Linked DNA regions of Homo sapiens: regions 2 and 3 are each linked to region 1. The links come from fine-mapping of genetic effects on gene expression. A gene starts in region 1. Each other region holds a variant in brackets. All regions are shown on one strand. Distances are from middle to middle.

Region 1 (8,177 bases):
TGTCCCCCTCTGGAAGAGGGGGCCCTACTCCCTTCTCCCCTTCCCACCTCCTGTCCCCTCCTCCACCCACTGGGACACTGCCCTCCTCGAGGCCAGAGAACACTTTTCTCTCTTCAAAGATTCTCTTCTTGACCAAACTGAGCTTTGAGCTCCTGAACCTTCTCTTAGACCTATGCATGCACTTCCTTGTAAAATCCAGTTTTAGGAAGAACGTGGCTAAGTCAGGTTACCAACATCCTCCCACCCTGCCTATCTGATCACCCTCGATATCCAACTGGGTTCCCCCTCCTCCACCATCCCCAGGTGATGTCTGACCATCCTGGCCCATCTTCAGCAAGAATCCTGTTAGGTCGGCATAGCCAGAGTCCCCCCATACTCGTCTTAGTAATGTTCCAGCCACCACTCCCACCCTGTTCCTTGGCTATAAATTCCTACTTTCTCATGCTGCATTCGGAATTTAGCCTAGTTCTATACTGGGGTCTCTTACCCCTATTGCAGTAGTCCCAAATAAAATCTGCTTTCACCACTTTAACTACTGTTCAGTTCTGTGGGGTTTTTTTGTTTGTTTTTCTTGAACACCTCCTTATCTTCCTGGATGTTCAGCAGTGTTTGGCATTGCTGATCACACCCCAGTCTCTTCCTGAAACACTCTTTTCCCTTTGTTCTGTGAGCCCACTCCCTCCTTCTTCAGGATAAGATGTGAGCTCCTTTGCATAGCGCACAAGGCCCTCTATGCTGCGGGAACACAGGCTCCTCTTGCCCTCTGCTGCCTCCTCTCCCAGCAATCCTTCCACATATTCTTCTCACCAGCTCCTCAGATACGCTCTGGTTCTATCAAGACGTACTAGGCTGAGCATGGTGGCTCACACCTGTAATCCTAGCACTTTGGGAGGCTCAGCAGGGCAGATTGCTCGAGCCCAGGAGTTCAAGGCCAGTCTGGGCAACATAGGGAAACCCTGTCTCTACAAAAAACACAAAAATTAGCTGGGCATGGTGGCACACACCTGTGATCCCAGCTACTTGGGAGGCTGAGGTGGGAGGATCACCTAAGCCCAAGGAGGTTGAGGCTACAGTGAGCTGTGATCATGCCACTGCGACAGAATGAGACCCTGTCTCAAAAAAAAAAAAAAAAAAAAAAAAAGACAAGCTGCCTTCCTAGTACACATTTTACCTCTTTTCTTCCTCCTCCTCAGTCATCCCTGCATCCCCTATGGAGCAGTTTTTATGTCAGGCATTATGTAAGTACTTTACAACTACACCAACAGGAAATCCACTGCAGAAAACCCCCACTTAGAGTGATTTAGGCATTTATGCAAGGAGAACTTTGTAGAAAAAGTCCAGGGCGTGTATGCAAGCTCATATGCCATCAGCTCCCCAGGCTTGTTCATCCCTAACATGGTAGACTCCAAACTCATGTCTGTGCCTCCTGCTCCCATGATGGCTGCTGTGTCTCCAACACTGTATCCCCTTCCCAGGTAGAAGACAAGGAAGGAGCGAAGAGTTTTCTCCTAGCAAGATAAATCCTCCACAGGGACTTAAGTATATGTGGTCAGTTATGTCACATGGCCCCTTGTAACTGAAATGGGACATGTGTTTTACTTCTCCAGCCTCTATGGTAATAAAAACCAGGAAGAAGGGGGTTGTGAATGGCTTCCGGTTAGCTCATCACCAATGCCTGCCATACATTTCATCTTGTTTCAGTCTCATTTTACCTCATGTAATTCAAGCAATGTTATGATTTAAAGGTTTCTGTTACGTGCATTTCACCAGTGAGAAAATCAAGTCTCAAAAAAATAATACCTACTTTTTACAACCCAGGTCTGCCATCACCTCCTCCTGGCAGAATTCTTTGTATGCCCAACCCTAGGCTGAGTTAGTTATGTGCCCTCCTCTGTGCACCATAGCACCCTAGGCGTGCATCCTTGTTGAAATCTCCAGCTGTCCTAGAGTGGCCTGTGAGCCCCTGCAGTGGGCTGTGAGCCCCACAGGATAAGGCTCTGTAGCCCCCAGGCCTGGGGAGATAACAGGCCTGGAGCTGTACCTATGAGTGTTTGCTGAGTGACAAGCAAGGTGGTGGCCCTGCTCCATGTGGATGTGCCCAGACCCTGGAGCTCTAAAGTATCACATTAGGGAACAGAGACAAATTATAAGGTCCCAGAAGACCCGAGCCACCATGGGAAACGTTGGTGCATGGCTCAGCCAGAGTTCAGAGCACCCCCTGCAGGCTGCGGGTGTCTCTCAGTGACCACAGTGTCCTGAGGCCCAGTGACTTCCTGGGTGGAAACTGAGGCCTGGAGTGTTCCTCCCAGGGCAGTGAGAAAGAGAGAAATAGAAAATCCTTTGCAATGTGGTTTGTGTTACCGCAGCTTCAGCCATGGAAGGGGCTCCTTGAATTAAACAGGAAGCAGAAAATATCAGATTTAGATCCCACATTCCATGCATTGTATACAATTACGCGCTGGAGCCATAGAGGGGCACGTGGGACCCACAGAGGCAGAAAATGGGATTGCTGTTGGGAATGGGGTCGTTCTTTCATGGGAAACCAGTTGCATTCTTGACAGGTGGGCCGAGTCTTCCTGAGGTGCACACTTCACAACCCCAGGGGCACAGGTGAGGCCCTCTCATTTGCTTACAAGGCATTGGTGACAGACATGCTACCAGCTCCCACAATGATGGAGAGTCCCCTTCTCTGCAGCCCCCCAACACCGCTGCATATCTCTGGATTGTAGACCATCCTTGGTGGGCTCACCCCAACTCTCAGGCTCAACAGCCTCCTTTTTACCCATGACTCCTATGTCAGTCTCCAGCCCAGGTCGGCTTCCTGAGGCCCAGGGCCATAAACCCAATCGCATCAATAGGTCCAGCCCTTCAAACACTGCCTGTCTGAAACAGAACCCATCATCCTACCAAAAATATGCTCCTTCTCCAGGTGCCCTGCCACAGAGAATGATACCAATGTCCAGCCACTCACAAGAGCCAAACCATAGTGGTATCTTATCTCTTCCCGCCCACACCCATTGGATTCCCAAGTCTTGACCAACTCCTTCTCCTAAGGCCCTCTTACCCGTCCCCTCTTCTCCACCTGGGTGGCCATCACCCTAGTTCATGGGACCATTGTCTCTTGTCTGGATTGTTCTGCAGTCCAGCTCATCTTCATACCTTCAACATGCTCCAAAACCCTGCCCACGCCCTAGCTGGCCCAGCCACTCCTATGTCCCTGACCCTCTGATGGCGCTGTGTTGGCCTCAGGATCAGGCAAAGCCCTGGCCTTGGTGCACTAGGCTGTCCACACCCTGGCTCCTGCTGGCCTCTTCCCCCTGTTCCCTGGTGTTCCTATCCTGTCGCTAGGGCTTTGCACGTGACATTCCTTCTAATCTATTCTATCCATATTTCTTCAGGTTTTCCCTTGGACTTCAGCTCCTTTAGAAAGCCTTTCCAGACCCCCACCCACTCCCCATGTAGGAGGGCAAAGAAGTCCACTGAAGGCATCTAAAGTGTCTTATTCACTGTGTTTCTGTCTGTTGGATAAATGTGAGTGCAATGGTGACTGCTCGACTGCCTGGCACTACACTCAGACTCCTGGAATGCTGAAGCCTATACTGCTTTCTGTCCAGACCCTGAACTCCCTTTCTCTAAAGTAGGGCATGCCAATTTAAACAAAACACGGAGGACCATTTGCAGCCATGAACACGGCCCTGCAGACGGACAGGCCGATGAGCAGCAGAGCAGACAGGGGTTCCCGCCATCATCCCAGCTCTTCACTGCAGCCTTCAAGGGTCTCCCTCAGAACTTTCATTCATTGTCATACTTCATTCATGATTGCTCATCTTGCCTATAAACAAATCTGAGACAAATAATAAGGCATATCAATGTCCGTATTTATTCAAGAGATACATTGGGGAAAGTCATTTTTCAAAATCTTTTACTGTAGGATTTCTTCACTAAAATCTGTAAAAACTGGTAGATATTGTTGGTGATGCTGGTGGCGGTGGTTGATAGGCTCAGGAAACATGGCTGACATCGCCCTGCCGTGAATTCTGGTATAGTTAAGCCCAGCTTCTCTTTCTTTTTGTCACTGGGGCTCTGGGTGGAGGGAGTAACAGAACAGGGGCAGCAGTTTGCACCTTCTGCTGGCCCTGTTTGCAGACTCAGCTTTTCTTTCCCTGGGCTACGTTGGCAGGTGATACGATCTCTCTGTTCCTCACCCCATGGAGAGGTGAATCTAAAATGAGTGGGTCTGTTAGGGTCTGCATGTCTGTACGTTCCCCTTCTGAGGGGAACTGGCTCCTGGACCCCGTTGCCCTGCTCCAGCTGGGGACCCAAGTGCAGCCATCCCAGGCAGGCCCGGCCCCGGGAGGCCTCCACCAGGGCTCTGCCAAGCAGCAGAGGCTGCCTCTCTAAAGATCCCCTGTCGGGAGAGTGCCTGCCATTTATGGAGCGGGCAGGCAGTAGGAACCAGATAGGCGAGCTAGCTGGAGGCAGCAAGCTCAAGGGGACTGGGCTGCTGCGTGGCGTTCACTGTGCAGCTTGAAGAAGACCCCACGAAGCCTGGACAGAGCCCCAGCTTGGTAAATATTTGTTGACCGATCGGTTGAATGAAATGGTCTTGGGGCAGAGGGGGAGTGGTTTTGTAATGGGGACTGGCGGCGGAAACAGCAGAGTCCCGTCTCTCTAACGGCTAAACTTTAGCGCAAAACAGACACACCGATTAAGGTTCACCGTGTGCCAGGGCCAGGCTGGGCTTCTTCTAGGTGGTTGCGGCGGGCGCGGCTCAGCCTGGGTGCTCCGGAAGCTCCGAGCAGCGCAGGCCGACGGCGACCGTGCGGGACCCGCCCAGCCGCGCTTCCGCCCCGCCTCTGGCCACAGGCGCGAACTGCGCGGCCGCTGCCACCAGGGGGCAGGCCAGGGCAGCGGGAGGCAGGGCGGGGACGCGGTGACGCGGGCACTGCCGGGTCCCGTGACTGCGCGCCCCGCCCGGAGTCCCCGCCGCCGTCATGCAGTCCCCGGCGGTGCTCGTCACCTCCAGGTGAGCCAGACCCCCGCGCCCCACACCGCACAGCTCGCAGTCCGGGGCGCCCGGGCGGAGAGGCGGGGGGAGGCCGCCGCCTCCTAGGCCAGGGACCTGGTGCAGGTCTCCCCAGCGCCCTCGGTGGCTTATCCGGGCTGGGCCCCTGCACCGCCCTGCAGGAGAGGTGGCGACCCCGATTTACAGATGAGGAAACCGAGGCCCTCTGGAGGGTAGAGAACTAGCCAAGGACAGCGGGAGCCCTGGGACTGACTGGTTCAGTGCAGGCGGGCGCAGTGGGGACTCTGCTCTCCTTTCCTACCGCCTTGGGTTCTTCTCTTTTGAGCCCGAAAATCTAGTTCCCCATCCTTTCAGAGCTCCCTGAGTCCCAGGCCCGGTGCTGGGCACTGGGGACAGAGGCGAATCAGACAAGCTCGCCCTGCAGGGGGCTGCAGCGGAGAGGGGGTGATGCCAGCAGCGGGTAGTAAGCTCAGGTTGCCATGGGAACACAGTACAGGGCAGGAACCCGGTTTCTGGGAGGATGAGTTTGATGAGAGACCAGGGAGAGGTCGTTGCTGCTTGCGAGGCAGCTCAGGAGAGCGCAAGTTACAGCAAAAGCCTTGGAGGGGTCCAGGCGGAGGATGCAGAATGGGTCGGCCCTGATCGAGACCTGGAGGACCCAGCCCAAGGTGGATCCTGGCAAGGCTGGGAGGCACGTGCTTTTACTTCTTTCCGCCTTTAAAACGCTGTAAAGTGATTTACTTCAAATATTTTCATACACTTCACCCTTGCTCTCCCTACACAAAGTCTTAGGCTAAGATGCCAATTTATGACATAAATGAACGTGTTACCCAGCCAACTGTTGATCTTCCAGTTGTAATCAGGAATTCCCCGTGACTTCAGGTCTAGAAAGGTATGATTCCTTTTGTAAACCCTGATGTCGGAGGCTGCTTGGTCTTTCATGATCAAGTGTGGTTACAGTTGTATCTTCATGGGCAGAAGAGGTTTCCCTACTGCCACTTACGTCACCTCCTCTCACCAAGCCTCAGTTTCCTTTTCTGTGAATTGGAGGTTTCAGATTGGCAGGCATGAGCAACGTCAGTAGTATATGCCCCTCAGCCATGTGCAGATGGATGGGGTGTGACTTTGGTGCTGGGTGCTTGGGATGGGGTGGGTGGCTTCCCTCCCTGCCCCGCTGCACAGCCTGGACGTGGCTTGTTAACAGATGTGGGGGCGCTGGCGGTGGTAAGGCCACATGAGTCAGGCTCATTTCTTGCTGAGGGCACCAGCACACCCAAGGATCTTGCCTGCAGGGTGAGTCCAAACGCCTTAGCCCAGCAGCAAGGCCGGCCCTTCCCAGTCGCACCCCAGCTCCTCTTTCCAGCCCGATCTCCTCCCACATGTCATTGCCACATGCACTCAAGCTTGAATTCAGCCAGAAGGTGTTTATCGAGAGCCTTCTCTGTACCGGGTACTGGCCCTAGTTCTAGGAGACAAACAAGTCCCTCTCGTAGAGCTTTAATGAGGGCACAGGCCCAGTGGGCAAATCTACGACATGTCAGGGATGATACATGCTATGAAGGAAAACAAAACAGTGGGGGCAACAGAGTGGTAGGAGGCATGCATGCTGTTTTCTATGGTGTGGTAAAGAGGCATCTTTCTGATGGAGTGGCGCCTGGACAGATCCCGGACAAGCTCCATGAGGGAGAGAGCCATGAAAAAGAAATCTTGGAAAAGTGTGTACTGGGAGGACAGGACAGCAGGAGCCAGGGTCCCGAGGCTGGTATGCTGGAGTGGAGTGAGCCCAGGGAGAGTGTTAGGTGATGCGGTGAAGAGGCAAGCTTGGGAGTGAAGGATGATCAGGAAAGGCCGAGAAGGCTGTGGAGGGGCCATCAGATTTAATTTCAAGTGCAATAGGGCCCAACTTCTGGTTTATAGAGATCCTTTGGCTGCTATGCTGAGCATGGGCAGTGGCCGAGCTGAGCATTCAGGACAGGCTTGTAGGTTTCCATGTAGAGCCGGTGGTGGCTTGGCCCGGGGTGATGGCGGCCGTGAGGGTGAGAAATGTTTGGGTTCTCGATATATTTTGAAGATTGAGCTTTCAGGTTTGCTGATGCTTGGATATGGGGTGTGAGAACAAGAAGAGAAGTTAAGACTAACGGCAAGTCTCTCAGCCTAAGCTGCTGGAAGAATGAGGCTGCCCTTTAGCAGGCTTGGGGAGAGGTAGAAGCAGCATTTGTGTAGACAGGTGAGTTTTGAGAAGCTCGTTGACAGCCCAGTGGGGATGTCAGGCAGCTGCAGCTGGAAGGAGGCTGGCTGTGAGGGGAGAGTGAGCTAAAGATGGGAGTTGGGGAGCCATTGGCTCGGAAATGGTATTTAAAGCCTGGAGCCTGGATGAGATCACCTGGGGAGGGGTACAGTGAGAGGAAGAAGGAGGGTGCTCTGGATGCTATCAAGGGGAACCATCCAAAGCAGTTCCTCTCCTCCTGTTTGAGCAAGAGTGGCCAGGGTGGGCAGAGAAGAACCAAGAGTGAGGGGGTGCTCCAGCCACCAGTGAAGGCAGAGCTTGAAGGAGGGGAGTGGCTGACTGTGCCCACTGCTGCTGACAAGTCAGACCAGAGGAGAAATGAGGATTCACCTTTGGATTTAACCACATGGAGGTCGCAGATGACCTGGGCGTGGGCAGTTTGTTGCATGATGAGGACCAAAGTCTGGCTGGAAAGGGTTCAAGATCAAACAGGAGGAGAGGAACCCATGAATATGGGGCCCTCTGTTGAGGAGTTCTGCTGGAAAGGGCAGGAGGGAAACGGAGCAAGGGGAATGTCGGGTCAAAGCACAGCTTTTGTTACATGAGTGGTCAGAGCATGGTTGCATGCTAATAAGCGTGGGCCAGTAAGGAAGGAAAATCGATGGTGCGAAAAAGAGGGGTGAGCTGCAGCAGCTATGTCCTTCAGTAGGTGGGAGGGCCTCGGAGCCGCTGCCCTGGTAGAAGGTTGGCCTTAGGAGCAGCCAGCCAGTTTGTCTACAGTCCCAGGAGAGGGCAGCTATCAGGGAGCAGCTGCAGGCTGATGGGCAGATGTGACAGCGAAGCCTAGGATGTTCTCCGATGGTCTCTGGAGCAGTACACAGCAGTGTCCACATCACTTGGGAATTTGCTAGAGATGGTGAGGGC
Region 2 (8,177 bases), 27 kb after region 1:
CCATTCCACCAAGTTCACTTCCTGTCTCCACATCACCTCCTCCAAGAAGTCCTCCCTGAGCCCTCAGGCTTGGTTGGCTCTGTCCTCTGTGCTCTGCCGTGACAGAGCGGAACACCCTGTGTGCTAATGAACAGTTTCCTTTTTTTTTTTTTGAGACAAAGTCTCACTTTGTCACCCAGGCTGGAGTGCAGTGGTGTGATGTGAGCTCACTGCAACCTACATCCCTGGGGTTCAAGCGATTCTTATGCCTCAGCCTCCCGAGTAGCTGGGATTACAGGCATGCACCACCATGCTACGCTAATTTTTGTATTTTTAGTAGAGATGGGATTTCATCATCTTTGCCAGGCTGGTCTCAAACTCCTGGCCTCCCGTAAACTTTTTGCTTTAAACTAAAGCACTTTTCATATTTTATTCTTAAATTCACCCACCTCAGCCTCCGAAAGTGCTGGGATTACAGGCATAAGCCACCTCACTCGGCCATAATGATCAGTTTCTATGTGACCCTGCTCTGCCATGAGCTTCTGGGGACAGCGGCGGCTCGTCCTCATCTTTGTTCCCTCGTCCCCAGCACAGGTTCTTGCAGGTGGGAGGTTCTCAGTGAGTGCTCGCCATCAAAGGTGCCCACGAGGGAAGGAATGAGTTGCTCATAGAGTGGCTGAGGGCCTGGTGGCAAGCCCAGTGGAGTCGGCCAGGAGATCTTCGGAGGAGGGGCTTTCGCACATAGGGCGCTGTCTGAGACTGGGGTTGGGAGCCTATCCCTCTTCCCTCCCTGCCCCTCCCGCCTTGGGGATTAACAGAATCCTGAGATGGAGATGTGCTGGCACCCTGCTCCCTGCCTACCTGTCCTCCACCTGTCCATCCCTCCTCCCCTCCATCCATCGCGCATCCTCTCATCCAGAGTTTATCAAGGCATCTGTTATGGACCAGGCACATTACTAAGCCCCCAGAGGCTGAAAGTTTTGGGCCGCTCAGGATAGGACCCTGGGGCTTTTAGGCACCAAAACTCCATATTTCCTGCTTCTTCCTTGATTCCCCTGAAGATGGGTCTAGAGAGTTGGGGAGGTAGAGAAGGCAGCCCAGGCAGCATGGGTGGGTGGGGGTAGGGTACAGACCATGCCTGCTGGAGCCGCCCGCGTGTGCTGTAGATCCACTTTATTTCAGTTCAGGACAACAAAAGGGCAAACATGTCTCTAGGGAGAAAAACAAGGACATGATCCAGTTGGAGGAGAAAACTCACATGGAAGGAAAGTTAGGCCTCTTGTGTGCTGTCCAGACCAGGTGCAGGCGTAGGAAGGGGCACCACGGCTTCTCCAGAGAGACCTCCTCGCGCCTGTTCTCTCTCGCTTCCCTTGTTCCTCAGATGGCTCGCTTCCCTCTCTGCGCCCTCTGATTTCTGGTCAATGCAAAGCCTCTTGCTCCCCTGCCCCGAGGGGCCCGTGGCTGGTTACATGCAAGTTCAATCCCCAGGAGCCAGGGAGGGCCTGCTTGTTTCTGAGCAGACAGTGTGGGGTGTGGCATGGAGCTGCTGCTGGGGGAGGCTGCAGAGCAGCCTCAGACCTGCCCTCCCTGAGAGCTGCCACCTGGGTAGGGGCCGGGGTGGCTCTCCACCCTTCCCCACCGCAGTGCCTGCTGGGGCCAGGAGCAAGGGCCACGCAAAGGGCGGCAGAGATGGGGAATGAAGGGGAGAGAAGCATCGGGCAGAACAGTGGCTGCGAGCCTGGCTGACCGTGGAATTCCACAGGAGACTGAACACAGCCTCCTGGGCCTGCTTGGGGTTTCCGACTCAGTGGGTCTTGGCTGGGGTCAGCTTTGCTGTCTGCCCCAGGAGGCCATGGCCCTTGTTTGGTACCCACTTCCTAGGAGTCATGAGAGCCGAGCTGGCTCTGCCTGATTGGTAAGAATAAAGGGGAGAATGTCTGAGTAAGAGCAGGCGAGCCCTGGCTCCTCCAGGTCTCAGAGGAGCAGAAGCTGAAGATTTCTGGAAAGCACTTGCCCTTAGGGTGGAGAATCGAGGCTCCCTCCACCTCACCTCCAGCACCACAAGCAGGGCCTGAGGGTGGTGCACAGCAGAGGAGGTCCCTCATGGCCTGAGCTGGGTGGAGAAAGCACAGGACCAGGCAGATGGGCCTTCTTGGAGCAGTCCCTGCCACTGCGTCTCTGCTCCCCATCACTACCCTTGAAACATGCCACTTTCTCCCCAGAGAACAGCAGGATCAATCCTGTTATCCCTGCGCCATCCTATATCACCTTCCTCATGGGACATTTGGAGGGGACAAGAGGATAGGACCATGAGTATGACCATCCTCAATCTAGACCCAGCCTGCCTGTCCCTTCCCTGCTGTGTGGCCTTGGGCAGACACTCAGCTTCTCTGGACCACTGTTTCCTCATCCAACAAACGAGCCCTGCAGAGATCCTTCCCCTGGGACTGGGCTCTGAGCTCAGAGGATGCTCTGTCCTGCAGCCTTCCAGCAGGGAACCTTCCAGCAGGGAGCCTTCCTGGCTTTCATAGTTTCTCCTCGCCTCGGCTGGGTGCCTGGGATTCTGCCAGACCTCAGACTCCAGACTGTGGGAATGGTCACCTTGCGGGGACCTGCCCCTCCAGCACCCAGGGCCATTCTGCTATTTTTATCTGCCATTGGTTAATCTGTATCATTGTGTAGGCCAGCCTCTCGGTGCAGTTTTGCCGCAGCGTGTTACCAACATGAGCTCAGATGGTGACCTCACATAGTGACCTCAGTCCAGTGGAACTGCCCGCCAGGCGGACAGGCACACGGAATTTCAGTTTCCAGTAAAGAGCATATTCTCATTATTTTCAGGAACCTTAAAATGGCTAATAGACATCATCAGCAGGGATTGAATGCCTGTTAAAGTAATTATTAAAGTAAAATCAAGTGTGTTTACTTACTGGCGGTATCACTTACAGTGACGTACACAGATCCTGAGCATTCAGCTCCATGCGTGTTTACTTATCCAGCCCGTAACTACCGCCTGGATCAAAACTAAAGTACTCCTACACCCCAGAAGCTTCCATCCTGCCCCGTCCTGGTTTCTTACAGCAGGGTCTGGCCCAGAGCAGGACCTCCTCAGCCAGTCGGCAAGTGCACTGTAATGGGACCTGGGGTGGCAGAGTCGGAGCCGGGGAGGTGGGCAAGTCCCAGAGAGGCTTCCTGAAAGAGGGGGGCTGCTCCACAGAACCCAAGTGTTAACTAGAACAATGGTGGTTTTACCATGCAAAGGAAACAATAAGGCACTTACCAAAGCTGCTTTCTGCCCTCCTGAGTCCTAGCCCTGAGGTTTGTGGCTCAAGACCAGGTCCATCCCCATTTCTGAGTGGCTGTGGAGTGTGGTTCTCTGAGCCTGGCCCCCAAGTGCTGAGACCCTGAGACCAGGCAGCTGTCTCTACCTTCCGAATGGGAGTGTGATCTCTGGCCTGTGACCGCATGGCAGACTCAAGGCCTGAAGGCGTCTAAGAGCTGGGGTTGTCTGGCAGCTGGTGCCCGGTCCTGGCAGCCGCCTGCTCCTCCTGACAGTGGTCATTTCTTGAACACAGGGCACAGCTGCCCACAGTAGCGGGGGCCTTACCACTCTGTCATTGGGGAAACCTGCTTCTCAACCACCTTCGCTGGCCTGCTTTTCTCCCCTGGGATGGAGGACCTGTCCTTCCCTTGGCCGTGTGACCATCTGTTAGAGATTTCAGAAAGACTTCAGCTCCACCTGCCTGGACTGCTCTGGGTGGCCCCCTCCAGGACTTCCCTGGTCCCTCTGGCCTGGTCTTTTCTGGCCCATGGCATCCAGCCCCTCCACTGCAGGGCCCAGCGCCTGTGTCGGTCTGACCGGACCACCTGGACACTTGT[G/A]GGAAATCCTCACCTTGTGCTTTGTCTGTGATTCTCCAGCTCCAAGAAGCCCAAGAAACATCCCAAAGTGGCCGTGAAAGCCAAGCCCTCGCCCCGGCTCACCATCTTTGACGAGGAGGTGGACCCTGATGAGGGGCTCTTTGGCCCGGGCAGGAAGCTGTCTCCACAGGACCCCTCGGAGGACGTGTCATCCGTGGACCGTAAGTAGAGCCCCATGGTCTGCTCCTGGTGTCCTCTCGGTGCCCAGCCCCATCACCAGGCAGGGTCTGGACTCACCCGGCGTGAATAGGACCCATATATCTCCCCTGTCCTGTTTAGATGTGATATAGACTCAGCTTTGTGCTTCCATGACATCTGTGGGCAGATGTGGGCCCTGGGCTTCCAGGCACTGTTTGTGTGGTAAGCGATAGGGCCTGCCTAGGGCACATGTGTGACTGTAGGTTTGGATTTAATGGGACTCTGTGTCGCCTGCATGGACTCTGCTGGAGGGCTCTGTGCAGAGTTGGCAGAGGGAAAACCGAGCGGCCTTGGGACATCTCCACTCATCCCTTGGTCCCTTTCCTCACATGCCCAGGTCGTCCTCCGGTGAGGGGAATTGATGCCACCCACTAATTCAGCCCATACTTGGTGAGCCCTCACTGAGGGCCAGGCCCAAGAACATGCTGAGGAGTGAGACCTAGTCCCTGTCCCTAGTCCCTATCCCGAGGGCCCCGGGGGCCCCTGGGGAGACAGGTCATTGCCTGACAGTTACAAAGCAGCACCAGTTATGACAGGTTGAGCAGAGGCATCAATTCCTGTAGGACTGCCCAGAAGACTTCCTGGGGTGGGGCAGAGAGAGAGCAGCCATGGCATCCCAGCCTAGAGGCTTCCTCTGACCCCCCTGCTGCTGCCTTCCCACAGCCCTGAAGCTATTTGATGATCCTGACCTCGGCGGGGCCATCCCCCTGGGTGACTCCCTCCTGCTGCCAGCCGCCTGTGAGAGTGGAGGGCCCACACCCAGCCTCAGCCACAGGGACGCCTCCAAGGAACTGTTCAGGTACCACCTGTCCCCAGCGGCGCTTGGCCAGCTCTGAGAGTGTTCTGGACAGAGCCAAGGGCCCGGCTCATTGCCCAGTCTCAGCCCCAGCCTCCTCTGAGGGGAGGACCCCAGGCCTGTGAAAAGTAGAAGCCTGTGGGTGCACATTGGGTGAGAGGCGGTGAAGGGGGCTGAGGGGGAGGATCCGCAGCCCAGGGCTGCTCAGCTAGTTCCAGAAAGAGAGAACTTTGTGTGCACAACCAGTCTTTCTTTTCACAATCATATTTTAACAGTTTATGTAAAGAATAATTAAATTATATAATTGCAAGAGCAGGTATAACTGGCATAAGCAAGTTTGGGAACAAATTAAACGGACTCATGGCAGCATGCAGCCCACCCAGCGAGGGGGCAAAGTGCAGATGTCTTGGTGATGGCCTCTCTGCCGGAGGGCCCGGTCGGCAGCTTTCACAGAAGGAAGGGAGAATGAGGCCTCAGCTGTCACATGGAGGTCAATTGGCAGAACCTGTGCCGGTGACAGCTCCTATTTCCTGAGTCCTTGCTGTGTACGCAGTAAGCCAGACTCCTTACACGCTCTCTTATGTAATCTTCACGACAGCCCCCTAAGGTGGATGCTATTTTCTCCATATTATAAGAAATCAAGTGTGGGACGCCACCTGGCTAAGACCCCTGCTCTGCCCCTGGCCTGGCCTCTCCACTTCATCAGGGACTGTCTGAGCACTTGGCTGGGTGATCTGCCTCCCCACCCAGCCCCCCAGTTCTCCCCAGGCCTTTACCTCCACTGGCCACATTCTCAGCAGACTCAGTGTTGTGCGTGTCTCCAGCTCCCACTCCATGCTCCAGGACACAGGACTGTGCCTGGGATTCAGAGGAAGCCAGGCCGCCTCTTTCCAGGAACGGCTTATGTGACACCAAGGCATGCAGGCCCTGGAGGCTGTCATCTGTACCCCTCATTAGCAGCCTCGGGCTATTAGACAGCCCTGCAAGTGCCCGCCAAGCCTGAGTCACCGTGACGGCTTCTGGTATTTACATGTCCCCAAGGCCCCTGGCATCTGTTCACTCTCATCCTGTGTCCTCGCTCCTGACATCCCAGCGGGCTGGAAGAAACCAGGATTGTTATTTTATTAGAGGGAAACCGAGGCACAGGGAAATGAAATACTAGAGTCTGCCTGCGGAGCAGCAGGGCCAGGCCGAGCATGTCTAGGAGTCCATGTGTCCCAGTGGGGTGGCTCTCGTGGGACCTTTCTGGCCTAGTTTATTCTAAATCCGTTACTTCCCAACCTGTGTTCTGCAGAACGTGGTACAGTGGGGTGGTCAAAGGCTATCTTCAAAGGGGCTCTGTGGCTGATGAATTGGGGAAATGCCACAAAAAGCAGGGCTCGTAGTGCGCGGGCCAGCACCACATGGCACTTCACGTTCTCATTCATCCCTGGGCCCCCCACTCTGTGGTGCCCCTTAGCATCCCGCAGAGCGCTTGGGGAGTCCCTGCTCAAAAAGTGTGGGTCCCGCACCCCCACCTTCACTTTAGCAGACATCTGCTAATGAAAGGATTAACTGCTTTTCTTTTTTTTAAATTCAGACAAATTCAAAAAGAGCCGTAACACTGGGATTAGCTTCTTGAGAGCAGGAACCACATTCATTCTTTGTGTCTGCCCTGTGACTATCCAGGGAGTAGTTGGACTTCCTCATAATAAAGAATGTTCTGATAGCCATTCATTCATTCATGCTTTCACCCCTTCGTTCATTCTGTCACTAGCCTCAGCCACCCTGAGGCCGCGTGGGGTGTACACTGAGCGGGTCGAGGCTAAGAAGGCTTTGTTCCTTCTGGCTGTGCAGCCACACCAGGGCAGGGCCTCTAGTCTAGATGTTTAGGTGAGTCTTGTCTTCCGCAGGAACCCAGGGAGAAGGAATGGGGCCAGGGTCTTAGAGCTCCCTTACCCCCCACTGGTTGACCTCACACCAGCTGGGCCTGGAGGAGAAAAGAGCTGGACCTTGCGCTAGTGAGAGCTAGTCCTAGTCATGACTCAGAAATAGGGTGCTTGGAAAAGGGGTGCCTTGCAGCCTCCTGTGTCCCAAGAGCAGCTATGCTGCCTCCCACCGTGGCTGACCACCCGTGTACACCACCCACCTGGGAGCAAATCCAGCTGCTGATTAGTTCCAAAGAGTCACTGCTTTGCCAAGCAGGCTAATCCTGAAATCTGACATAAGCCTCTAGCGGCTGCTTTATTTTCCAAAGGGCCCCTATTTGAGGATAATTCAGTCCCTTTGAGCTTTTCCCAGGTACCCTCAGCCTTCAATGGAGGCTGCATCATGCCAGTGGAGCTGGCACCTGCCCTGGGGGAGTCAAGGAAGGGCTGCCACTTGGAGGGAGCTCCGGAACATCTGACCTGAGGTGGCCAGGAGCAGACTGGCCATGAGTGACACCTCCTGAAATCACCTCTACCCCAAGACAGCTGGTCTGTCTATGAAGGCCCGGCTTGGGCCAGTCCCTCTGGGTTTGTTCAAGAAGGACACCTTTTATTCATTTCTCTGCCATCCAAACAGACTCTGAATTCTCTCTCTGGGGTTTGTGCCCCATCACAGGAGGTTGAGCCAGGAAGCAGGCAGGGTGTCCGGAGCTCCTTCCACAGCTGGCTCCAGGCAGGCATCCACCCCTGGGGGTGCTGTGCTGGACACCTCCATACTCACACAGGCTCTCTGGTAGTGCCAGGAGTTGTCCTGATCAGAGGTATCGCCTCTCTATCCCCACCCCTGCCCGGCCCTGCCCCAGGGCAAGAAGCCGCTGCTCATGAGCCTGCCTGGTTCTTCCTGTTCATTCTCATTCCCACCTCCAGACCTCTGCTGTCTGCTCCCTTCTTCAGAATTCTCTCCCCTATTCATGCCAGGCTCACCCTTCTGAAAAGACCCACCTTCCCAGGAGGCCTTCCCAGCCTGCTCTGGCCCAAGGGCTCACTCCCTTCTCTGGACTTCAACACCTTCTTTCCAGGCCTTTGCAATTATGTGGCCCCTGTCTGACTGGGCTGGGGGGTGTCCCTCATTGTAGGTGGAGGCACTGCTTTTCTGTGTCTTATGCCCACTTGCTCAGCCCCTGTGGCTGTCAGTAGACATCAGTACATACAGCCTTCCTGTACATTTGGAAACTACTTTCCTTGTGTTGTCTTATTTGATCCTTGTAAGAATCCCTGTGAGGATGGTAGAGCAAGTACAATCCCACTTTATAGAAGAGACTGAGGACCAGGGAGGAGGAGTGGCCTGAGGCTGCCTGATGGAGGAGTTGCAGGGTGAGGAA
Region 3 (8,177 bases), 41 kb after region 1:
CCGCCTCTGAATGGCTTTTTAAATAAAGCTGGGCTAGCTCTCTCCAGGCCAACTGGCCAATCATGTCGTTTGTTTTCCCACATGCAGAGCTCATCCATAAACACTAAGCACGTAATGGGCACCTACCGTGTGCAGTACCTGTTCCAGGCAAGTTGGAGGAAGCAAAGATGAAAAAACTTGAGCCATTAAAGCCAATTCTACCAGGAGCCATGCTGAGCCTCTAGTTTCACTTCTGTTCTCTGGGCCTTCTGCCTGAACCTCAGGCACAACTAAAGGAGGTGCCTCCTCCATGCGGCCCTCTCTGCCTGTCCTTCCCCCTCTGCCACCTGCCAGCATGGACAGTTTGTTACCTGCAGCCTGGGCTCAGCTTTTGTTCCATTTCCTGGAGCTGCCTTGGCAAAGCACCATAAACTGGGTGGCTTTAAACCACAGGAATGTATTATCTCACAGTTCTGGGGGTCACGAGTCTAAAATCAAGGTGTTAGTAGGGCCATGGTCCCTCTGAAATCTCTAGGGAAGGATCCTACTTTGTTTTGTCCTGGCTTCTGGGGGTTTCCTGGCAACACTTGGGGTCCCTTGGTTTATAGCTGTATCACCCCAGCCTCTGCCTTTGTCTTCATATGAGTTTCTCTCCTCTGTGTCTGTGTCTTCACACGGTGTCTTCTCTGTGTCTGTGCCCAAATTTCCCTCTTATAGGAAAGAATACCAGTCATTGGATTACGGCCCACTGTAATCTGATATGACCTCATTTCCCTTTAATTATACCTGCAAAGGCCCTATTTCCAAATAGGAGCACCTTCACAGCGTCCTTGTGGACATGAATTTGAAGGGACGCAATTCGACCCAGTACAGTTACCACCTGTCCTGAGCACGTGGCATTCAGCAGCAAGCAGAGGCCCATTCCATTCTGCAAGGCATGCCCCCTGTGCCATCCCTGTGTACTCTGTGTGTTTCAGCAGTGCCATGTCGGTTTCACTCCCATGTGAGGGGACGTGTCAGGAGGAAGCTGGGCAGGCAGTTGTGTGTGTAGACACCCACCACGGGCCATCATTATAAAGTTCTGTCCTTTGCAGCTGCTGCCAGACATGTCAAATTCTCTCTATCAAAAGCTGGATCTCTTTATTAAATAGTGAAATGACTCCTTAGATAACATGTGGCACAAACTGGAGAGCTGGTGACACTCAGAGCTATCCTGGCTGGCAGGCGGGCAGCGGCGTTCCTTCCTTCCTTCCTCCAGCAGTGCCCCTCTGGAGAAGGCCTTCCCTGGCTGGACCAGCACTGTCTGTTCAGAGCCATAGGCAGCTGAGTCCTGGGGCTCCCCCTTGCCATCACCCCATTATCCTCTCGCTGGCCTCCGAGGTAGTCGGAAAGGGCTCTGAGGATGCTGGCAGTGGGAACTAAAGGCTTCCGGAGCATGGGAGCTGCAGGCCAACTGCCTTTACTGCTGCCTTCTCAAGCTGGTTTTCTTCCTTTGCTGAGATCGCCCTTGACGTCTCCACAGTGTGTTTCTGTTTTTCCTTTTGGTGTTATCGCCACTTTGCTGATTTTCCCCTAACAAGTGCTCTAGGTCCCAGAGGGCAATGTTTTTCTGGATTAGAAAGTAGAACAGCTGATTTCTTGCCCACCTGTTTCTCAGACATCAGAAGCTGCAGAGAGGCTGAGCTTGACTCAGTCCCCCCCATCCCCAGATGGCTTCATTTTACACCTAGGTTGGTTCCAGGACCCTAAATTGGGCTCTGTCTGCTTGTATGGGTGGCCCTAGGATTTGCATCGGGACCTCACAGTCTATAAAATCCATGGCTGTGGAATGGAAAATGGTGCAGCACTTTGGGAAATAGATTTAGCAGTTTTTACAACAAGTAAACATAAATGTACCACACAAATCAGCAATTCCACTCCTAGGCATATACCTAAAGAGAAAGAGAAATATATGTCCAGTCAAAGGCTTGTACACAGATGTTCATAGCAGCTTTATTTATCACAGCCAAAAAGTGGAAACAATGGAAAAGCCTCTCGGCTGGTGAATGGATAAACTAAATGCAGTAAATCCATATAATGGAATATTATTAGATCACAAAAACGAATGGAGTGATACATGCTGCAATATGGATCTACCTCAAATACATCATGTTAAGTGACAGAAGCTAGACTCAAAAGACCACGTATTGTATGATTCTATGTATAGGAAATTTCCAGGACAAATCTACAGAGACAGAAAGATTAATGGTTGCTTCAAGCAGAGGTTGGAACTAACAGTGACTGCAAAAGGGCACAAAGAATCTTTCCCAGGGTGATAGAAATGCTCTAAAGTTGGCTTGTTGTGATGGTTGCACAATTTGATAAGTTTACTAAAATTGTTCAATTGTACACTTAAAATGGGTGATGTTTACGGTATATAAATTATATCTCAATAAAACTGTTAGGATAATTTAATGATTGGAAAAAGAAGGAAACCAACAAATCCATAGGCAGCAGAGTGCAGAGATTAAAAATGTGAGCCAACTCCTGGCTTTTGGGCTTCCTGGCTGTGTGACCCTGGGCCAGTTACTTAACCTCTCTGTGCCCCAATTTCCTCCTCTATAAAATGGGGGTAATAATTTTACCTGCCTCATTAGGGTAGTATAAGGCTAAATGAGTTAATATTTGTAAAGTTATTTGAACAATACCTGATGCATAGTATTCATTATATGTGTGTAATTAACATTCTGTTGAAATTCTGTTAAGCTGCTGTCTATTGGGCTATGAGGAATCCTAGAGTTTGAGTACTCCCTCTCTTCATCTGAGAGTGAACACCAGACATCTTCGTGGAAAGGGGTGCTGATGGCTTGCTCTCCATGGAGGGTGGTTGTAGGTGCGGGAGGAGGCTGTGCCACCCTCTGCCATCTCTCAGCTTCTCTGAACCCCACGCTGCTGAGCAGGGTGATGGCCTGCTTCTGCTGCCTCACCGTGGGGTGGGGGGCATGGGAATGGGCACATACAAAACCACTGGAGACCCAGAAAGGGGCCCTGGGATTGAGGGACCCTGTGTCCAGGGGGCCCTGGTATGTGACTGGGGACTGGATCCAGGTGGGTCATGGAGGTCTACCAAAGGGAGGGTAGATGGAACGAACTGGAAATGAGCCATTCTGACAAGGAATAATGTCAACAGGACTGCGGCAGCGGGGAGTACATTCCAGCTCACCCCACACTCAGAGCAACAACAGCTCTCCCAGCACCATGGAGACAGGAAGTAAACACATCGGTTTCCCTCTCCTGGTCCCTGAACTTTGCGCACGATGTGGTCAAGTGGAGAGAGGTTTCTGGCAGTCCCAGCGGCCCATGGTCAGGCTGGCCTGTATCCCTTTCTCTTTACCCCTTGGGATTTCCCAGCTTCCTTATCAACCCTCAATCACTTTGGGAGGGAGTGAGCCAGCGTTCCCCCTTCCTTCGAAAAGAAGCCACACACACAAAGACTTAGACACGAATGTTCACAGCAACATTATTCATAAGGGTTCCTCCCCCAAAGGAAACAACCCAAATATCCATCAAACAAACGGTCAAT[G/A]AACAAGCAAACAGTGGCACATGGATGCAGCGGAATGCTGTGCAGCGTCAAAAAGGAAAAACCCTCTAACAGACATACCACAATGGATATCACAAACATGCTAAGTGAAAGAAGCCAGACCCCAAAACTATATCTTGTATGATCCCACATATATGAAACCCTAGAAAAGGCAAAATTGTAGTGACAGAAAGCAGACCCATGGTTGCCAGGGGCTGGGGATGGGCAGGACAGGAGTGGTTGGCTGCAAGGGGCCATGAGGCAGCTTTTGGGAGTGATGGAAGTGTGCTACGCTGTGAGCATGACTATAAACGTTCACCAAAACTCATCAAACTGTGCACTTAAAATGGGAACATTTGATTATACGCGAATTATATCTCAATATACCTGTGGAAACCACAGTACAAAACTGAACATACTCTTACCATACTCTCCAGCATTTGTGCTCCTTGGTATTTACCCAAAGGAGTTAAAACTTATGTCCTCACAAAAATCTGTACATGGATGCTTATAGCAGCTTGATTCACAATTACCAAGACTTGGGAGCAACCAAGATGTCCTTTGGTAGGTGAATGAGTAAACAGACTGCAGTATATCCAGGTGATGATTCCACTGAGCATTTAATTCAGTGCTAAAAAGAAATGTGCTATCGAGCCATGAAAAGATATGGAGGAAACTTAAATGCCTATTACTAAGTGAAAGAAGGCAATCTGAAAAGGATATATATGTTGTATGATTCCAGCTATCTGACCTGGAAAAAGCAAAACCACAGAGACCATAAAAAGATCAGTGGTTTCTGGGGTTCAAGGGGAAGAGAGGGATGAATAGGAGGAGCACAGAGGATTTTTAGGGCAAAAACTTATCTGTATGATACTCTCATGGTGGATCCGTGGCATTATTCATTAGTTTAAACCTACAGAATGCACCGCACCAAGAGTGAACCCTAATGTATGCTATGGCTCTGGGTGATAAGGAGGCGTCCATGTGTCCATGTAGGTTCACTGGTAAATGTCCCACTCTGGTGCAGGCTGTTGCTGGTGGGCGAGGCTGTGCATGTGTGGGGGCAGGAGGCATGTGGGGACTTTGTACTCTCTGTTCAATTGTGCTGTGAACCTAAAACTGCTCTTTAAAAAAAATCTACTTAAAAATAAAAAAGGAACCACAGGGAGGAAGCTCATGAAGTAGAAGATGCCTGCTGCCCCAAGATACCTGGTATCCCCAGACCATGCCCCACCTTTGGTGATAGCCCCCACAGTCCCCAGGGTACCTGGGCTCCAAGTGAGGCTTAGCAAACGTTTCACTGATGGTGGGAGGGGTTTCCAGTCCAGTAAATGGGAAAAACTGAGTCAAGGGGCTGGGGGCACCCTCTGAGGGAAAGGACACCTCCAGAGTCCTCTGGAGCAATGAGGGGTCAGAATCCTCAATTGGCCTGGAAGTCCTGGCACCAACTGGCCTTTGTTCCTTGACAGCATCTCTCTCCTCCTCTGTACGATTTCCAGCTTTTCTTTTTCTTCCTCTAGTTACCCTGTGTTGTCCTGGACAGGTGAATGGGGAGAATTAACTGCATGGTGGCTCAGGGCCTACTGGCACAGTATGGGATGACACACAGCTGAGCAAATCCACAGAGCGGCTCAGCCCAGCCTTCCCTCCTCTCCCCCACTCCTGGAATGAAGCCAAGAGGAGCCTCAGTATTCGGAAAACTGTTCAATGTGCTCCCTAGAGAAGGCTCCAAGAGCTGAGCTACAACAGGCCTCACGAGAACAGGCCTTTTCCTGGAGGAGAGCTCAGAGGTCCCCCCGGGCCCCTGGAACGGCTTTGAAGTGGCAATCTTACTGAAGGTCTCCACCAGGACCCCTTTGGCTTGGGGAGTGCATGGTCCTTTGCTGGGATGCAGGAAGGCTGCTGTGGGTTCTCATGTGGCAGAGAGCGAGGACTAGAGCCCTGAGAACCTGACTTCTCACAGGCACTATTAGAGCAGCAGGCCAGGATCCTGATGCAGCGCCTGGCGGCCTCTGCCCCCAAGGACGGTGCTCATCCTGCAGCTACCCATGGGTGGAGAGCCACAGAGCAGGGGCCCTTGAACACCTGTGTTTCTTGGATGGGCATCAGTTCTCTCTGGGCTCCTGCCAATCAGGCCAACAAGGTTTTGGGGTTTGTTTTCCCTGTAGCCAGGCGGGCTCAGACATAGCTCTTCTCAGCAAGCCTGACCTCTTAGGCTTTTCAGGACCTCAGCATTTATGAAGTGTGCCTCAGGCCTCTTCATGCTCAGAGCTGTGGGAGAGGGCCAGGGAGGAGAGATGCATGACTAGTTGGAGCCACAGGAGTGAGGCATAGGAACTCCGCAAAAAACTCTTGGTTTGAAAGATAGAGCACTGAATCAGAAAGTGGAGGGCAGAGGTGGGGACTAGAGGATGTGAGTGTGGCAAAGGCTGGAGAACTGGTTTCCTTGGGGCAGCAGAGTGAGCAAGGGTGACAGCCGGACACCCTGGAGAAAGTAGAGGATGAGCCAATGAGAGTCAAGAAAACACTTGGTGAAAGACAGAAATCTTTGCCCGAAGATCAGGAACAAGACAGGATGCCCGTTTCTGCTACTTCTTTTTTTTTTTTTTTTTTTTTTGAGACGGAGTTTCGCTCTTGTTGCCCGGGCTGGGGTGCAATGGTGCAATCATGGCTCACTGCAAACTCCACCTCCCGGGTTCAAGAGATTCTCCTGCTTCAGTCTCCCAAGTAGCTGGGATTACAGGCATGCACCACCACAGCCAGCTAATTTTGTATTTTTAGTAGAGACGGGGTTTCACCATGTTGGTCAGGCTGGTCTCGAACTCCCAACCTCAGGTGATCCTCCCGCATCGGCCTCCCAAAGTGCTGGGATTACAGGCATGAGCCACCACACCCGGCCTGTTTCTGCTACTTCTATGCAATATTGTACTGGAAGTTCTAGCCAGAGAAACTAGGCAAGAAAAAAAAAAGACATCTAGATAGTAAAATAAGCAGGAGAACCACATTTATTTGCAGATGACATGATCTTACATGTAGCTGATACTAAAGAATCTACAAAAAAACTATTATAGCTAATATATGAATTTGACAAAGTTGAAGGATACAATATTAACACAAAATTAGTTATATTTCTATACACACTACAAAAGGAAAATCAAGAAAACGATTCAATTTACAATAGCACCAAACACAATAAAATAACTAGAAATGAATTTAACAAAGGGAGGGGAAGACTTGAACATTGAAAACTATGTAACACCGCTGAAAGAAATTAAATAAAATTTAAGAAAATAAAAAGACATTCCATGTTCATTGATTAGAAGACTTGATATTGTTAAAATGACAGTAATCTCCAAATAGATCTACAGATTTAATGCCATGCTTATCAAAATCCCAATGTGATGTTTTTACAGAAATGGAAAAGCTAATCCTAAAATTTGTATGGAATTACAAGGGACCCTGAATAGCTAAAGCAATCTTCAAAAAGAAGAGCAAAGTTGGAGGACTTATACTTCCCAATTTCAAAAGTCACTACAAAGTTACAGTAATCAAAACAGTGTGGCACTGGCACAGGATAGACATATAGATCAACTGGATGGAATTAAGAGTCCAGATATAAACTCATACACGTGTGGCACTTGATTTATGACAAGGGTGCCAAGACCATTCCATGCAGAATAGCCTCCCAAGAAATTGTATTGGAGGGGACATCCACGTGTAAAAGAATGAAGTCAGAGGCCAGGTGTGGTGGCTCATGCCTGTAATCCCAGCACATTGGGAGGCTGAGGTGGGCAGATCACTTGAGGTCAGGAGTTTGAGACCAGCCTGGCCAACATGGTGAAACCCTGTCTCTTCTAAAAATACAAAAATTAGCTGGGCATAGTCATGGGTGTCTGTAACTCCAGCTACTCAGGAGGCCAAGGCAGGAGAATTGCTTGAACCTGGGAGGTGGAGGTTGCAGTGAGCTGAGACCACACCACTGCACTCCAGCCTGGGCGATGGAGCAAGACTCTGTCTCAAAAAAAAAAAAGAATGAAGTTGCACCCTACCTCATACCATATGCAAAAATTAACTCAACATAAATCAAAGACCTAAATATAAGAGCTATTACTATAAAACTCTTAATAAAAATATAGGGTAAGTCTTCATGACCTGAGATTTGGCCATGGATTATTAGATATGACACCAAGAGCACAAGCGGCCAAAAAAAAATAAAAAGATAAATTGATGAATTTATCGAAACTAAAAACTTTTGTGCTTCCAAGGACAACATCAAGAGAGTGAAAGACAACACAAAGAATAGGACAAAATGTTTGCAAACCATATATCGTTTAAGGATCTAGTGTCTAGAATATATAAAGAACTCCTACAACTCAACAACAAATAACCCAATTTAAAAATTGGCATAGGATTTACATAGGCATTTATTCAAAGAAAATATACAAAGGACAACAAACACATGAAAATATGTTCAGTGTCTTTTTGTCTGACATCTTAGCGAGGCTGTAGCGTTCACCGCTGCTCTCTGAGCTTTGCAATGCCACCCAAGGACAAGAAGAAGAAGAAAGACGCTGGAAAGTTGGCCAGGAAAGACAAAGACCCAGTGAGCAAATCCGGGGACAAGGCCAAAAAGAAGAAG

What was found. PIP is the estimated chance that this variant, and not a neighbour inherited with it, causes the effect.
Region 2: its variant is fine-mapped to the expression of HS1BP3 in whole blood (TOPMed, PIP above 0.99).
Region 3: its variant is fine-mapped to the expression of HS1BP3 in whole blood (TOPMed, PIP 0.98).

What each region holds. Positions count from the first base shown.
Region 1 is chr2:20,647,881-20,656,057 of GRCh38, reverse strand. It overlaps HS1BP3 (HCLS1 binding protein 3), which reads left to right and starts at 4,960. Exons shown (of 7, transcript NM_022460.4): 1 at 4,960-5,026. The coding sequence starts at 4,995. It overlaps LOC105373466 (a long non-coding RNA gene), which reads right to left and starts at 4,776. Exons shown (of 2, transcript XR_001739320.2): 1 at 4,706-4,776; 2 at 3,858-4,083. RefSeq lists enhancers at 4,542-5,279, 5,364-5,513, 5,534-5,613 and a silencer at 4,694-5,283.
Region 2 is chr2:20,620,610-20,628,786 of GRCh38, reverse strand. It overlaps HS1BP3 (HCLS1 binding protein 3), which reads left to right. Exons shown (of 7, transcript NM_022460.4): 5 at 3,895-4,055; 6 at 4,756-4,891. Among named protein-coding and RNA genes, the nearest start is that of HS1BP3, 26 kb to the left of the region's middle. The variant G/A (reference allele first, on the strand shown) is at 3,856.
Region 3 is chr2:20,606,553-20,614,729 of GRCh38, reverse strand. It overlaps a transcript of HS1BP3 not described here and the pseudogene RPS25P3. Among named protein-coding and RNA genes, the nearest start is that of HS1BP3-IT1, 18 kb to the right of the region's middle. RefSeq lists an enhancer at 5,066-5,565. The variant G/A (reference allele first, on the strand shown) is at 3,542.